Regions from separate parts of the Homo sapiens genome. Here region 2 is linked to region 1. A link means that fine-mapping ties the variant in region 1 to the expression of a gene that starts in the linked region. Tissue or cell type: atrial appendage. Region 1 holds a variant in brackets; the other region holds the start of a gene. All regions are shown on one strand. Distances are between the middles of the regions.

Region 1 (8,204 bases):
GCCGGCAGCCCCTGCTCCGCGGCCCCTGGTGCCATCGACCACCCAAGGGCTGAGGAGTGCGGGCAGATGGTGCAGGACTGGCGGGCAGCTCCGCCCGTGGCCCCTGCATGGGATCCATGAGGCGAAGCCAGCTGGGCTCCTGAGTCAGATGGGGACTTGGAGAACTTTTATGTTTAGCCAGAGGATTGTATATTCACTAATAAGCACTCTGTGTCTAGCTTGGGGTTCGTGGATGCACCAATCAGCACTCTCTATCTAGCTAATCTGGTAGGGACTTGGAGAATCTTTATGTATAGCTAAAGGATTGTAAATGCACCAATCAGCACCCTGTGTCTAGCTCATGGTTTGTAAACGCACCAATCAGCACCCTGTCTCTAGCTCAAAGTTTGTAAATGCACCCATCAGTGTTCTGTGTCTAGTTAATCTAGTGGGGACTTGGAGAACTTTTACGTCTAGCTAGAGGATTGTAAATACACCAATCAGCACTCTGTGTCTAGCTCAGGGATTGTAAATGCACCAATCAGCACCCTGTCAAAAAGGACTAATCAGCTCTCTGTAAAATGGACCAATCAGCTGTCTGTAAAATGGACCAATCAGCTCTCTCTAAAATGGGCCAATCATCAGGATGTGGGTGGGGTCAGATAAGGGAATAAAAACAGGCTGCCCAAGCCAGCAGCGGCAACGTGCTCGGGTCCCCTTCCACATTGTGGAAGCTTTGTTCTTTCACTGTTTGCAATAAATCTTGCTGCTGCTCACTCTTTGGGTCTGCACTGCCTTTATGAGCTATAACACTCACCGTGAAGGTCTGCAGCTTCACTCCTGAGGCCAGCAAGACCATGAACCCACCTGGAGGAATGAACAACTCCGGACAGGAGGAACGAACAACTCCGGACAGGAGGAACGAACAACTCCAGATGCACCACCTTAAGAGGCGCCACCTTAAGAGCTGTAACACTCACCGCGAAGGTCTGCAGCTTCACTCCTGAAGCCAGCAAGACCACAAACCCACCAGAAGGAAGAAACTGAACACGTCTGAACATCAGAAGGAACAAACTCAGGACAGACTACCTTTAAGAACTGTAACACTCACCGTAAAGGTCTTCGGCTTCATTCTTGAAGTCAATGAGACCAAGAACCCACCAATTTTGGACACACAATCAAATTAGAACTCAGGATGAATAAACTCACTCAAAACTGCACAACTATATGGAAACTGAACAAACTGCTCCTGAATGTCTACTGGGTAAATAACGAAATAAAGGCAGAAGTAAAGATGTTCTTTGAAACCAATGAGAACAAAGACACAACGTAGCAGAATCTCTGAGACACATTTAAAGCAGTTTGTAGAGGGAAATTTATAGCACTAAATGCCCACAAGAGAAAGCAAGAAAGATCTAAAATCGACACCCTAATATCACAATTAAAAGAACTAGAGAAGCAAGAGCAAACACATTCAAAAGCTAGCAGAAGGCAAGAAATAACTAAGATCACAGCAGAACTGACGGAGTTAGAGAAACAAAAAAACCTTCAAAAAATCAATGAATCCAGGAGTTGATTTTTTGAAAAGATCAACAAAATAGACTGCTAGCGAGACTAACAAAGAAGAAAAGAGAGAAGAACCAAATAGACACAATAAAAAATAAAGGGGATATCACCACTGATCCCACAGAAATACAAACTACCATCAGAGATTATAGTATAAACACCTCTATGCAAATAAACTAGAAAATCTAGAAGAAATGGATAAATTCCTGGACACATACACCCTCCCAAGCCTAATCAAGAAGAAGTTGAATCTCTGAATAGACCAATAACAAGTTCTGAAAGTGAGGCAATAATTACTAGCCTACCAACCAAAAAAAAGTCCAGGACCAGATGGATTCACAGCCAAATTCTACCAGAGGTACGAAGAAGAGCTGGTACCATTCCTTCTGAAACAATTTCAATCTCTATTAAAAGAGGGAATTGTCCCTAACACATTTTATGAGGCTAGAATCATCCTGATATCAAAGCCTGGTAGAGACACAACAAAAAAAGAGAATTTTAGGCCAATATCCCTGATGAACATCAATGTGAAAATCCCCAATAAAGTACTGGCAAACTGAATCCAGCAGCACATCAGAAAGCTTATCCACCACAATCAAGTTGGCTTCATCCATGGGATGCAAGACTGGTACAACATATGCAAATCAATAAACGTAATCCATCACATAAACAGAACCAACGACAAAAACCACATGATTATCTCAATAGATGCAGAAAAGGCCTTCGACAAAATTCAACAGCCCTTCATGCTAAAAAGTCTCAATAAATTAGGTATTGATGGGACATATCTCAAAATAATAAGAGCTATCTATGACAAACCCACAGCCAATATCATACTGAATGGGCAAAAACTAGAAGCATTCCCTTTGCGAACTGGCACAAGACAGGGATGCCCTCTCTCACCACTCCTATTCAACATAGTGTTGGAACTTCCGGCCAGGGCAATCAGACAGGAGAAAGAAATAAAGGGCATTCAATTAGGAAAAGAGGAAGTCAAATAGTCTCTGTTTGCAGATGACATGATTATATATTTATAAAACCCCATCATCTCAGCCAAAATCTCCTTAAGCTGATAAGCAACTTCAGCGAAGTCTCAGGATACAAAGTCAATGTGCAAAAATCACAAGCATTCCTATACACCAATAATAGACAAACAGAGCACCAAATCATGAGTGAATTCCCACTCACAATTGCCACTAAGAGAATAAAATACCTAGGAATACAACTTACAAGGGATGTGAAGGACCTCTTCAAGGAGAACTATAAACCACTGCTCAACAAAATAAAAGAGGACACAAACAAATGGAAGAACATTCCATGCTCATGGAAAGGAAGAATCAATATTGTGAAAATGGCCATACTGCGCAAGGTAATTTATAGATTGAATGCTGTCGCCATCAAGCTACCATTGACTTTCTTCACAGAATTGGGAAAAGCTAAAGTTCATATGGAACCAAAAAAGAGCCCGCATTGCCAAGACAATCCTAAGCAAAAAGGACAAAGCTGGAGGCATCAGACTACCTGACTTCAAACTATACTACAAGGCTACAGGAACCAAAACAGCATGGTACTGGTACCAAAACAGATATATAGACCAATGGAACAGAACAGAGGCCTCAGAAATAACACCACACATCTACAACTATCTGATCTTTGACAAACCTGACAAAAACCAGAAATGGGGAAAGGATTCCCTATTTAATAAATGGTGCTGGGAAATCTGGCTAGCCATATGTAGAAAGCTAAAACTGGATCCCTTCCTTACACCATATACAAAAATTAACTCAAGGTGGATTGAAGACTTAAATGTAAGACCTAACACCATAAAACCCTAGAAGAAAACCTAGGCAATACCATTCAGGACATACACATGGGCAAAGACTTCATGACTAAAATACCAATAGCAATGGCAACAAAAGCCAAAATTGACACATGGGATCTAATTAAACTAAAGAGCTTCTGCACAGCAAAGGAAACTATCATCAGAATGAACAGGCAGCCTACAGAATTGGAGAAAATCTTTGCAATCTACCATATGACAAAGGGCTCATATCCAGGATCTACAAAGAACTTAGACGAATTTACAAGAAAAAACAACCCCATCAAAAAGTGGGCAAAGGATATGAACAGACACTTCTCAAAAGAGGACATTTATGCAGCCAACAAACATATGAAAAAATGCTCATCTTCACTGGTCATTAAAGAAATGCAAATCAAACCACAATGAGATACCATCTCACAGCAGTTACAATGGTGATCATTAAAAAGTCAGGAAACAATAGATGCTGGAGAGGATGTGGAGGAATAGGAAGGCTTTTACACTGTTGGTAGGAGTGTAAATGAGTTCAACCATTGTGGAAGACAGTGTGGCAATTCCTCAAGGATCTAGAACTAGAAATACCATTTGACCCAGCAATCCTATTACTGGCTATATACCCAAAGGAGTATAAATCATTCTATGATAAAGACACATGCACACGTATGTTTGCTGCGGCACTATTCACAATAGCAAAGACTTGGAACCAACCCAAATGTCCATCAATGATAGACTGGATTAAGAATATGTGGCACATATACACCATGGAATACTATGCAGCCATAAAAAGGATGAGTTCATGTCCTTTGCAGGTACATGGATGAAGCTGGAAACCATCATTCTCAGCAAACTATCACAAAGACAGAAAACCAAACACCACATGTTCTCACTCATATGTGGGAGTTGAGCAATGAGAATACATGGACACAGGCTGGGGAACATCACACACCAGGGCCT[A/G]TTGGGGAGTGGGGGCCTGGGAGAGGGATAGCATTAGGAGAAATACCTAATGTAAGTGTCGAGTTGATAGGTGCAGCAAACTAACATGGCACATGTATACCTATGTAACAAACCTGCACATTGTGCACATGTACCCTAGAACTTAAAGTGTAATAATTTTTTTTAAAAAAGGCACAGAGTGGCAACTTGGATAAAGAAGAAAGACCCATCAGTATGCTATCTTCAAGACCCCCATCTTACATGCAATGACACCCATAGGCTCACAAAAGGACAGAGAAAAATCTACCAAGCAAATGGAAAACAGAAAAGAACCAAGTGTTGTTATCATAATTTCAGACAAAACAGACTTTAAACCAGCAAAGATCAAAAAGGACAATGACGATACATGATGGTGTAAAGTTCAGTTCAATAAGACCTAACAATCCTAAATATATTTGCCTACAATACAGGAGCACCCAGATTCGATAAAATTCAACTTCCCATCAGTAAAAGCCCTCAACAAACTAGACATTGAAGGAACATACTTCAAAATAATGAGAGCCATCTATGACAAACCCACAGCCAACATCATATTGAATGGGCAAAACCTGGAAACATTCCCCTTGAAAATCGGAACAAAACAAGGACACCCTCTCTCACCACTTCTATTCAACATAGTACTGGAAGTGCTAGCCACAGCAATCAAACAAGAGAAAGAAATAAAGGGCATCCAAATAGGAATGGAGGAAGTCAAACTATCCCTGTTTGAAGATGATATGATTCTTTACCTAGAAAACCCTATAGTCTCTGCCCAAAAGCTTCTTAATCTGATACTTCACCAAAGTTTCAGGATACAAAATCAATGTACAAAAATCAGTAGCATTGCTATACACCAACAACATCCAAGCTGAGAGCCAAATTAAGAATGCAATCCCATTCACAATAGCCACAAAAAGAATGAACTGCCTAGGAATACAGCTAATCAGGGAGGTGAAACATCTCTATAATGAGAATTACAAAACACTCTTCTAAGAAATCAGAGATGACACAAACAAATGGAAAAACATTCCATGTACATGGATGGGAAGAATCAATAATGTCAAAACAGTTATACTGCCCAAAGCAATTTATAGATTCAATGTTATTCCTATTAAACTACCAATGTATTCTTCACAGAATTTAAAAAGGCTATTTTAAAATTCATATGGAACCAAGAGCCCAAATATCCAAGGCAATCCTAAGCAAAAATAACAAAGCTAGAGGCATCACATTACCTGACTTCAAACTATATTACAAAGCTACAGTAACCAAAACAGCATAATACTTGTATAAAAACAGACATATAGGCCAATGGAACAGAATATAGAGCCCAGGAATAATTCTGCACACCTACAACCATCTGATCTTTGACAAAGTTAACAGAAACAAGCAATGAGGAAAGGACTCCCTATTCAATAAATGGTGCTGGGATAACTAGTTAGCCATATGCAGAAGAGTGAAACTGTACCCTTTCCTGACACCATATAAAAAAATCAACTGGTCTGGGTGTGGTGGCTCACACCTGTAATCTTAGCACTTTGGGAGGTCAAGGTGGGCAGATCACTTGAGGTCAGGAGTTCCAGATCAGCCTGGCCAACATGATGAAACCCCCTCTCTACTAAAAACACAAAAATTAGCTGGGCGTGGTGATGCACACCTATAGTCCCAGCTACTCAGGAGGCTGAAGCATGATAATTGCTTGAACCCGGGAGGCAGAGGTTGCAGTGAGCCAAGACTGCGCCACTGCACTCCAGCCTGGGTGACAGAGTGAGACTCTGTCTCAAAAAAATTATATAAAACAAAATGAAAATAAATAAATAAATAAAAGGCAATAGTAAGTGTTGACAATGATGTAGTAATAGGAATCCTCATACACTGCTAGTGGGAATATACAATGGTGCAGCCACTTTGGAAAACATTCTGGCAGTTCAGCAGAAGGTTAAACATAGAGTTGTTATATAATCCAGTAATTCCATCCCTAGTTACATACTCAGGAGAAATGAAAATTTTGTCCACCCAAAAACCTGTACGCAAATGTTAACAAGAGCATTATTCAAAAGATCCAAAAGGTGGAAACAATCCAAATATCCATCATGTGATGAATGGATAAATAAAATGTGGTATATCCATACAATGGAATATTATTTGGCAATAAAAAGAAATGAATACTGATACAACCTGCAATATGCAAATGTCCAGAATAGGCAAATTTATAGAGACAGAAAGTAGATTGATTCGTGGTTGCCAGTGGCTGGGAGTTTGAGGGGAAAGGAACATTTAGTTTTTTGGGGGGCACTGAATATATTAAAAATCAATAAATTATACACTTAAATGAGTGAATTACATAGTATGTAAATTATACCTCAATAAAGAAAAAACTTAACAAGAATTCAGTATTGAATAATACACTAAAACTGTTTTCAGAAAAAAGAAGGGAATAAAGTAAGAACACAGGAATAAAACCATTGGAGATATATAGAAAACAAATCATGAAGTACCAGCTGTATATCCAATAATATCAATATTTACATTAAATGTGAATGGTCTAAACAAGGACTTGGCAAATGCAGGCTGCAAGCCAAATTCTGCTGCTTGTTTTGAAAAATAAAGTTCCTTTGGAACACACCCATACGCATCCATTTATATATTCTATTGCTGCTTTTGTGCTACAATAGCAAAGTTAAATGAGTGCAACAGAGACCACCGTGAAAAGTCTAAAATATGTATTATCTAGTCTCCTATGGAAAAAGTTTGCTGATCCCTGATCTAAATATGCCAGTCAATGAACAGAGATTGTCAGACTAGATTTTTTTAAAAAGTCAAGATCCAACTATATTTTGCCTATAAGAGACACATTTTAGACTCAAAGACACAAATCAGTTGATAGCCAAAAGATGAGAAAAGAGAGATTAAGCATTCAATCATTTTAATAATTCAAAATGAATTAATGTAAGAGCTGAGACCATAAAACTTTTAGAAGTTTATGGCCCACTTCTTGGTATATATCCAAAGGAAATAAAACTAGTATCTCAAAGAGTTATCTGCATCCCCATGTTCATTGCAGCATTATTTACAATGGCAAAACATGGAAACAACATAAGTGTTCACTGATGGATGAATGGATTTTAAAAAATGGTAGATTCAAATGAAATATTATTCAGCCATAAGAAACAAGGAAATTATTTCATTTGCGACAATATGGATGAATCTGGAGGACATTATACTGAGTAAAATAAGGCCAGACACAGAAAGATAAAAACTGTATGATCTCACTTTTATGTGGAATCTAAAAAAGTTGAACTCACAGAAGCAGAGAACATAATGGTGGCCGCTGGGAGCTGGGGGTTGGGGTAAATTAGGAGATGTTGGTTAAAATGTATACACTCTCACTCAGAAAATGAATAGGTTCTGGGGATCTGATGTACAGCATGGTGACTTTAGTTAATAATACTGTATTGTTTGATAAGAGAGTAGATTTTAAGCCTCCTCACCTCTCCTCAAACACACACTCAAAAAAACGTAACTATGGGTGATGAGGATGTGTTTATTTGATTGTGGTAAACAATATACAATGTATAATGTATATCAAATCATCACATTGTAAACTTTCAATAATACAACTTTGTCAATTAAATATTTGTATATTTTAAAAGATGACAACGTGAAACAAAATCCTTGTGCCCTTGGATTAGGCAAAGATTCTTTAGACATGAAAAAGTATGATCCATAATGTTATGGGCTGATCACGTAACCCCAAATTCACAAAGTACTAACCCCCAACACCCCTCATAATGTGACTGTATTTAAAGACTGAGCCTCTAAAGAGGTAATTAAAGTTCAATGAAGTCATATTGATGGACCCTAATCC
Region 2 (8,154 bases), 51 kb before region 1:
GAGAAAAGCTGCCTTTCACATCCTTGGCTAAATTTATTTCTAAGTCTTTTATTTTTATAGCTATTGCAAATGGGATTGCCTTCTTGGTTTCTTTATCAGCTTGTTCATTATTAGTGTATAGAAATGCTACATTTGTGTATGTTAAAATTCTATGCTGCAACTTTCCTGAATTTATTTATCAGATCTAAGAGTTTTTTGGTAGAGTCCTTAAGTTTCTCTAGATATAAGATTATGCCATTTGCAAACAGGGACGATTTGACTTTCTCTTTTCCAATTTCAATGTCTTTTTATTTCTTTATATTGCCGATTGGTCTAGCTATAATTTCCAGTAGTATGTCAAATAAGAGTGCTGAAAGTGGGCACACTTGTCTTGTTCCAGTTCTTAGAGGAAAGGATTTCAACTTTTTCCCATTCAGGATGATGTTAGCTGTGAGTTTTTCATATACGGCCTTTATTATATTGAAGTATGTTCTTTCTATGCCTAGTTTGTTGAGAGTTTGTATCATGAAAAGACTGAGTTTCATCTAATGCGTTTTCTGCATCTACTGAGATGATCTTATGGATTTTGTCCTTCATTCTGTTGATATGATGTATCACATGTGTTCATTTACATATATTGAACAATTCCTGCATCCCTGGAATAAATCCCACTTGATTATCTAGTATCTGTTTGATGTGCTGTTGGATTCAGTTTTCATTGAGGATTTCATTGAGGATTTTTGCATCTGTTCATCAGGGATGTTGGCCTGTAGTTTTCTTTATTTTTTGCATCCCTGTCTAGTTTTGGTATCAATGTAATGCTGGCCTTGTAGAATGAGTTAGGGAGAATTCCCTCATGTTCAATTTTTTTAATAGCTTGAAGAGAATTGGCTTTGGTTCTTCTTTGAAAAATTGGTGGGAGTCAGCATGAAGCCATCCAGTCCTGGAGTTTTTTTGTTGGAAGACTTTTTATTACTGATTCTAGCTACTAATTATTGGTCTGTTTAGGTTTTCTATTTCTTCCTGGTTTAACCTTGGTAGATTGTATGTATCAAGGAATTCACCCATTTCCTTTAGGGTTTCCAGTTCATTACCATACAGTTGTTCATAATTGTCTCTGACACTCTTTTGTATTTCTGTGGCATCAGTTTTAATGCCTTCTTCTTCATTTCTTATTTTGTTTACTGGGATCTTCTTTTTTTCTTGGTTAGTCTAGCTAGTGAATTTTGTTTGTTATCAATTTTGCTCATCATTTTTTTAAAAAAAACATTTTGTTTTGTTGATCCTTTGTATTTTTTTAAGCTTCTATTTCATTTAGCTCTGCTCTGATCTTCATGATTTCTTTTCTTCTGCTAATTTTGGGTTGGGATTCTTCTTGCTTTTCTAGTTCCTTGAGGTGTAACATTAAATTGTTTATTTGAAATCTTTCTACTTTTTTGATAAAGGCATTAATTACTATAAGCTTCCCAGTTAGCATTGCTTTTGCTGTACCCCAGAGGTGTTGGTATGTTGTGTTTTGGTTCTTACTGGTCTAAAAAATTTTTTGATTTCCTCTTTAATTTCTTTCTTGCTCAATAATTTGGGAGCATGTTCTTTAATTTCCATATATTTGTGCAGTTTCTAAAGTTCCTCTTGTAATTGATTTCTGGTTTTGTTTCAATGGAGTCTGAGAAGACACTTAGCATTATTTATTTTTAAAAATTTTGTTGAGCCATTTTTGGTGTCCTAACATGTAGTCTGTCCTGGAGAATGTTCCCTATGTTGATGAGAAAAATGTGCGTTCTCTAGCTCTTGGATGAAATTTTCTGCAAATTTCTGTTAGATCCATTGGGTATAAAGTGCAGTTTAAATTAAATGTTTTTTGTTTGTTTGTTTGTTTTCTGTCTAGATGATCTATGTAATACTGAGAATGGGGTGCTTAAATCCCCAACTATTATCCTGTTGGAATCTCTCTCTCTCTCTTTAAATCTAATAATATTTGCTTTATACATCTGGGTGCCTAGGTGTAGAGTGCATATATGTTTAGAATTGTTATATCCTCTTGCTGAATTGATTTTTTTTTTTTTTTTTTGAGACAGTCTAACTCTGTCGCCCAGGCTGGAGTGCAGTGGTGCGATCTCAGTTCACTGCAACCTCCACCTCCCGGGTTCAAGTGATTCTCCTGTCTCAGCCTCCTGAGTAGCTGGGATTACAGGCACACGCAGCCAGCCCCTGCTAATTTTTTGCATTTTAGTAGAGACGGGGTTTCACCGTGTTACCGAGGCTGGTCTCAAACTCCTGAGCTCAGGCAATTCACCCGCCTCGGCCTCCCAAAGTGCTAGGATTACAGGCATGAGCCACTGTGCCCGATCCCTTTATCATTACATAGTGACCTTTCTTGTCTCTTTTTTACTATTTTTAACTTACAGTCTATTGTATCTAATATTCATATAGCTATTCCTGCTGGCTTTTGGTTTCCATTTGCATAAAATATCTTTTTTCTTCCCTTTACTTTCAGTCCATATGTGTCTTTACAAGTGTGATGAGTTTCTTCTAAGCAGACTATTGTTGGGTCATTTTTTAATCCATTAATTCAAGCTATATCTTCCAGGTGGAAAATTTATTCCATTTGCATAAGGTCATGATTGATACGTGAGGGCTTATTCCTGTCATTTTATTAATCCATTTCTGGTTATTTTTGTGTATTCCTTGTTCCTTTCCTTCTCTATCATTGTTTATGATTGTGGTTTGGTGGTTTTCTGTAATGGTAACATTTGAGTCCTTTCTCTTTCTTGTGTGTTTGATCTACCAGTGGACTTTATATTTTTGTGTGTTTTCATGCTGGTAAATATTGTCCTTTTGTTTCCATATGTAAGACTCTCATGAGCATTTTTATAGGTCCAGTCGACTGGTGATGAATTCTTTTGCTTTTGCTTATCTTGGAAAGACTTTATTTTTCCTTGGTTTATGAAGGATAACTTTGTTGAGTACTTGGCTGGCTGTTTTTTCTTTCAGCACTTTGAATTTATCATACCATTCTCTGCCGGCTTGTAAAGTTTTTGGTGAGAAATCCACTGTTAGTTTGTTGAGGGTTCCCTTATAAATGACTAGATGTTTTTCTCTTGCTGTTTTTAGAATTCTTTGTCTTTGACTTTTATCAGTTTGACTACAATGGGCCATAAAGGAGACTTTTTCTTTTCTTTTCTTTTTTGCGAAAGAAGACATGCAAGCAGCCAAGAAACATATTTTTAAATGCTCAACATCACTAATAATCAGAGAGATGTAAATCAAAACTATAATAAGATATCATCTCACAGCAGTCAGAGTGGGTTTTATTAAAAAGTCAGAAAATATGAGATGTTAGTGAGGTTGCAGAGAAAAAGTAATGCTTACACACCATCAGTGGGAATGCAAATTGCAGCCACTGTGGAAAGCAGTTTGGAGATTTCACAAAGAACTAAAAATAGAATTACCGTTCAATCCAGGAATCCCATGACCAGGTATCTAGCCAAAGAAAAATAAATTGTTTTACCAAAAAGACACCCGCATTCATATGTTTATTGCAGCACAGTAGCAAAGGCATGGAATGAGCCCTGATGCCCATCAATGATAGACTGGATAAAGAAAATGTGGCACATATACACCAACATGCAGCCATAAAAAAGAACAAAATCATGTCCTTTGCAGCAATATGGATGCAGCTGAAGGTCATTATCCTAAGTGAATTAACACAGAAACAGAAAACCAAATACCATATGTTCTCACTTCCAAGTGGCAGCTAAACACTGGATACACATGAACACAAAGATGGGAACAATAGACACTGGGGACTCCAAAAGGGGGAAGGCAAGAGTTGAATAACTACCTATCAAGCGCTATATTTACTATTTGGGTTACAGGATCATTAGAAGCCACAACCTCAGCATCGTGCAATATACTTATGTAACAAACCTGCACATGTACCCCCGAATCTAAAATAAAAAGTGAGATGAAATTTTTTTTAAAAGAAAACCTTTTTGCATTGTATCTGTTTGGGAACCTTTGGCCTCCTGTGCCTGGGTGTCTAAATCTCTTGCTAGACTTGGGAAGTTTTCATATAGTATTTTGTTGAACCATTTTTCCAACTCTATTGTTTTCTCTTTGCCTTCTGAGACTCCAAAATTTTGAATATTTGGTCACTTTATGGTGTCCTACATGTCATGTGGGTTTTGCTCATTTTTTAAAACATCTTTTTTATTTTTGTCTATATGAGTTATTTCAAAAGGAAATAGTCCACTTCAAATGGACTACTGCACCATTTGCTCCGTTTTAAAATATTACTATGCCTTAGGAAGCAATCTAGCCAGGAGGGTTATTTGACCTCACACAGGTATTGCTTTCCCACCTGTAATGCCATTCATCCAGAACTCCCCCTAACCCAGCAAGACTCTATTCAGTCATCAATCACTTCTTTTAGAAAACGTACCCACTACCCATATCACTCTAGAGTTGGTTTCGATGCCCTTGTGTTATTCTTAGCATTCGTCATACTGTATGGCAATTCTGTTTCCTCTATGGGGCTGCGAATGTTTCCAGGAACAAGAATAGGCTTCATCTTTTTCTTCCTCATACAGGGAAGTGACTGACATACAGTAAGGCATCCCACAAATTGTTCAATGAATCAACAGGAGGTGCAATGGCCAGAGGAACAATTTATACGTATGTAAGGCTATGTAAAGGCACGTAAAGCCAAACCGCTGTGAAAACCGCCTTCAGAAGTCAGTCGGCTACTAGGCAAATATACAGAAGCACACAGGACAAATCCATTCATTCTCCAGCTCCTACACGCCCGGGAAGCAGTTTTACTTTACAGCAAGTTCAAGAGTCGCACCGCAGATGCTGTAAAAACGAAAGAAGCCCACAGTTGGGACGAGGATTCCAGTTTTGCGTCACCGTCAAGGCGGGAAAGTTCCCGGCTGTCGGTTGGAGGGTGGGTCCTCGCCCCGCCCCGCCCCCTCGGGCCGCCCTTCCGCGCTTCCGGGAGGCTTGTCCCAAGCTCACGGACCCCTCGCTGGGTGCCGGTTAAGACCCCGCTCCCCGTCGCCAGTGCTATGGAGGCGGCGGCGGCGGTGGTGGCGGCAGAGGCGGAAGTGGAAAACGAAGACGGCGACAGCAGCTGCGGGGATGTATGCTTCATGGACAAAGGCTTGCAGAGGTAAAGGGCGCTCCGCAGCCAGGAGCGACCCGCGCACTCCCCAGAGCCGGGGCCACGAGTGGCTGGCGGCGACACCAGAGTGGAGGCGCGGCACTGCTTTACCAAGACCATAAGTGAACGCAGTCTGGCTTTCGGCCTCCCCGCTCCTCCAAAACTTACCTGCCGAAGTGCCAGGTTGAATGAGCCGTGGATGCCTTCCCGCCCGTGTCTCCTGCCCAGCGTTTCACACGACTCTGCTTAGCCTAGAAACTGCCCCAGGACCTTGTCCTCCACCAGCTTCTGACCACTCTTTCCTTCTGCTGGTTTTCCTTACTTACTGGTGGTTATTCCTTTGCTTGCCGTTTAATTGCTGGTTTTCTCGTGTTCTCTCGTCTTTCCTGTTCTTACCTCTGAAAAAAACCTGCAGGATAGTATCTCTGGCAGCTATGAGCGGGCAGTCGCTGCTGCCTGTTAGTTTTGCCTCAGTTCTCCTTGTCTGCATTCGAAATCATTTGTCCGTTACAGAACATTGCAATACATATATTCATATACTTTTTGAAAGTACTAAACTTACTATATTTAGTTCATCGTTTCCCTCTCTCTTGAAGCCCTGACTTGTGCAAAGCATATGAGGCACTTGGTTCTGTAATACTGTAAAGCAGGTCTCCACCTGCATTTCAGGCTCTTTAGTCTCGACCCGTAACATTTCTCCACTTACACTTTATTTACCTGTACTGAGCTACAGGCAATTCCATAGCAGACTTCTCTGTGCCTTTGCACATGCTGTTCCTTTGTAGCGTGTCCTCTACGCGAACTCTGCTACTGATAATTAAGCATCTTGTTCTGGATTCTGATTTAAACTTTGCCAGATGATCCCAAGAAGATGCTGTTCAAGGGACATTTTACATTTCTATTTAATACTAGCTGCCATTTACTGAATGCTATCTGTTGTGTGCATGTTATATACATTATCAGTAATCCTCACAGCAATTCTACAAGGTAGTAATTTTTCTCATTTACAAGTGATGAATGAGACTCAGAATCTATTGACAATTTGTTCATCTTTATACACTTCATGAAGAATTAAGTTCGGATTCAAACCCATTTTCCGTCTAATTTCACTATGCTTTTTCTATCTCACATTATCTGCACATTATTAATGTCGAGAAACTGAAATGTGTCAGAAAGTAAATGACTGTCATTAAGAGCATGTGTTAACAGCATAAGGTCTGGCACTAAATAAGAACTCAAGTAAATGACACAGCAGGATAAGTGGGAAATGCCCCAGATAGTCACATTTAAAGGTTGCTAGTTTGAAATTTGCAAATGCTTCCCTGCTGTCAGAGTTAGGTTTCCTACAGCTGTAAGATAGCTGCTACTCAACCTACAGCAGATGCCCGTGACATTGTGTGTTCCTGGGTGTATCTCCCATCTAGCAACTCCAAACTGTGTATGCTGTAGTTTGTGTTCCTGGAACTACTATCTTCAGGAGAAGCTTCAGTTATAAATAGTAATTGGAGTGAAGAGATGAGTTCTGTTTAGGGGAGATCCATTAACTTTCAACAAGGGAGGACAGGGACTTTTTCAATAGGAATTGCAATAACATGGTTTGTTTTTGAAAATGCAATAGACTGTGGATTAAATAGCTATTGCACACAAAGAAGAAAATAAAGTTATAATCTCCAGCATGAGATCTGGATTTACATATGCTCTGTTAGCTGCAAGAATTTGGGCAAGCTATTTAATTTCCATAAATTTAGGTATCCTTAAGATACCCACTGCTTAGAGTTATTGTGAGAATTAATTGAGGTAAGAAAACTGAGGCTCAGGTTGTCATTTGCTCAAATCACACAGCAAAACCGTGATAGAATGCAGATTCAAACTGGGATATTAACATTCCAAAGCCTTTACAGTTATTGACTACTATTCAGCACTGCCTTCAATATATGCTGATGACTGCACACAGGAGTTAGAAATGCCCACTGTCACTTGCCTGCCTTGAGCGGTTTCTTGTTTGTATAAATAATCCAAAATACTTGGTTGTGTTGTAAGAAGCACCGTGTTTTGTGAGACATTTCAAAGGTACCACAAATAGGAAAGATTTCATTCTAGAATGAATAGAGCACATATTTAGTATCTACGTGCTGTTTGGTTAATTTTAGTTATTTGGTCATGCTTTTAAAATCTATTTTTATAGTATATATTTTCTTTTATAGCATATCAGAATTATCTTTAGATTCAACTCTTCATGCCGTCAATCTTCATTGCAATAACATCTCCAAGATCGAAGCCATTGATCATATTTGGAATTTACAACATCTAGATCTGTCATCTAATCAAATAAGTAGAATTGAAGGACTAAACACACTGACAAAACTGTGCACATTAAATTTGTCCTGCAATTTGATTACAAAAGTAGAAGGTTTGTAAGTGATTTTCATTTAACACTTAGCGTAAGGAAAATGATTTAGGTCCATTTTTTTCCCCAAAAGAATGGAATAAATATCAGAAACTCTTAAAAATTGAGTCTGAAACTCATTATACAAAATATTTTCTCCAAAAAAGTGTCAATTTTTTAAAAATTCTGTTTTTTCTAAATGCCAATAAAATTGATTTCGCTGTTACCAGACTGGATTTACTTCAGAACAGTCTGAAATAACATTGTAATGCTATATCTCTGTAATTAATTATTTAAATTTTATAAAGGCTTTATTTTATTTTACTTTTTTTTTTTAGGACTTGAAGAACTAATTAATCTGACTAGACTAAATGTATCTTATAACCACATAGATGATCTTAGTGGTAAGTAGAAATGCTTATGTTTTCTGTATGCTAAATGTTGTGCCACATGTGATAAGTTAACAGCTCAGCTAAACATGTTGGAAATCTCTGAATATTAATCTAATTTTTAGCCAAAGAGCTCATCTAGAGAGCGTATTCCAGTCATGATTCTATTTTGTTGGTACCAAAACCACAGCTGAGTACAAAATAGAAGTTAAAACCAAGGTAATCAGTAGCAGGAA

What was found. PIP is the estimated chance that this variant, and not a neighbour inherited with it, causes the effect.
Region 2: LRRCC1 starts here. The variant in region 1 is fine-mapped to the expression of LRRCC1 in atrial appendage (GTEx, PIP 0.99). The same link has a PIP of 0.9 or more in whole blood.

What each region holds. Positions count from the first base shown.
Region 1 is chr8:85,152,941-85,161,144 of GRCh38, forward strand. No RefSeq gene overlaps it. Among named protein-coding and RNA genes, the nearest start is that of E2F5-DT, 20 kb to the right of the region's middle. The variant A/G (reference allele first, on the strand shown) is at 4,319.
Region 2 is chr8:85,102,248-85,110,401 of GRCh38, forward strand. It overlaps LRRCC1 (leucine rich repeat and coiled-coil centrosomal protein 1), which reads left to right and starts at 4,991. Exons shown (of 19, transcript NM_033402.5): 1 at 4,991-5,152; 2 at 7,348-7,553; 3 at 7,868-7,933. The coding sequence starts at 5,049. It overlaps LOC105375933 (a long non-coding RNA gene), which reads right to left and starts at 5,615. Exons shown (of 3, transcript XR_929117.3): 1 at 5,312-5,615. RefSeq lists an enhancer at 5,103-5,162.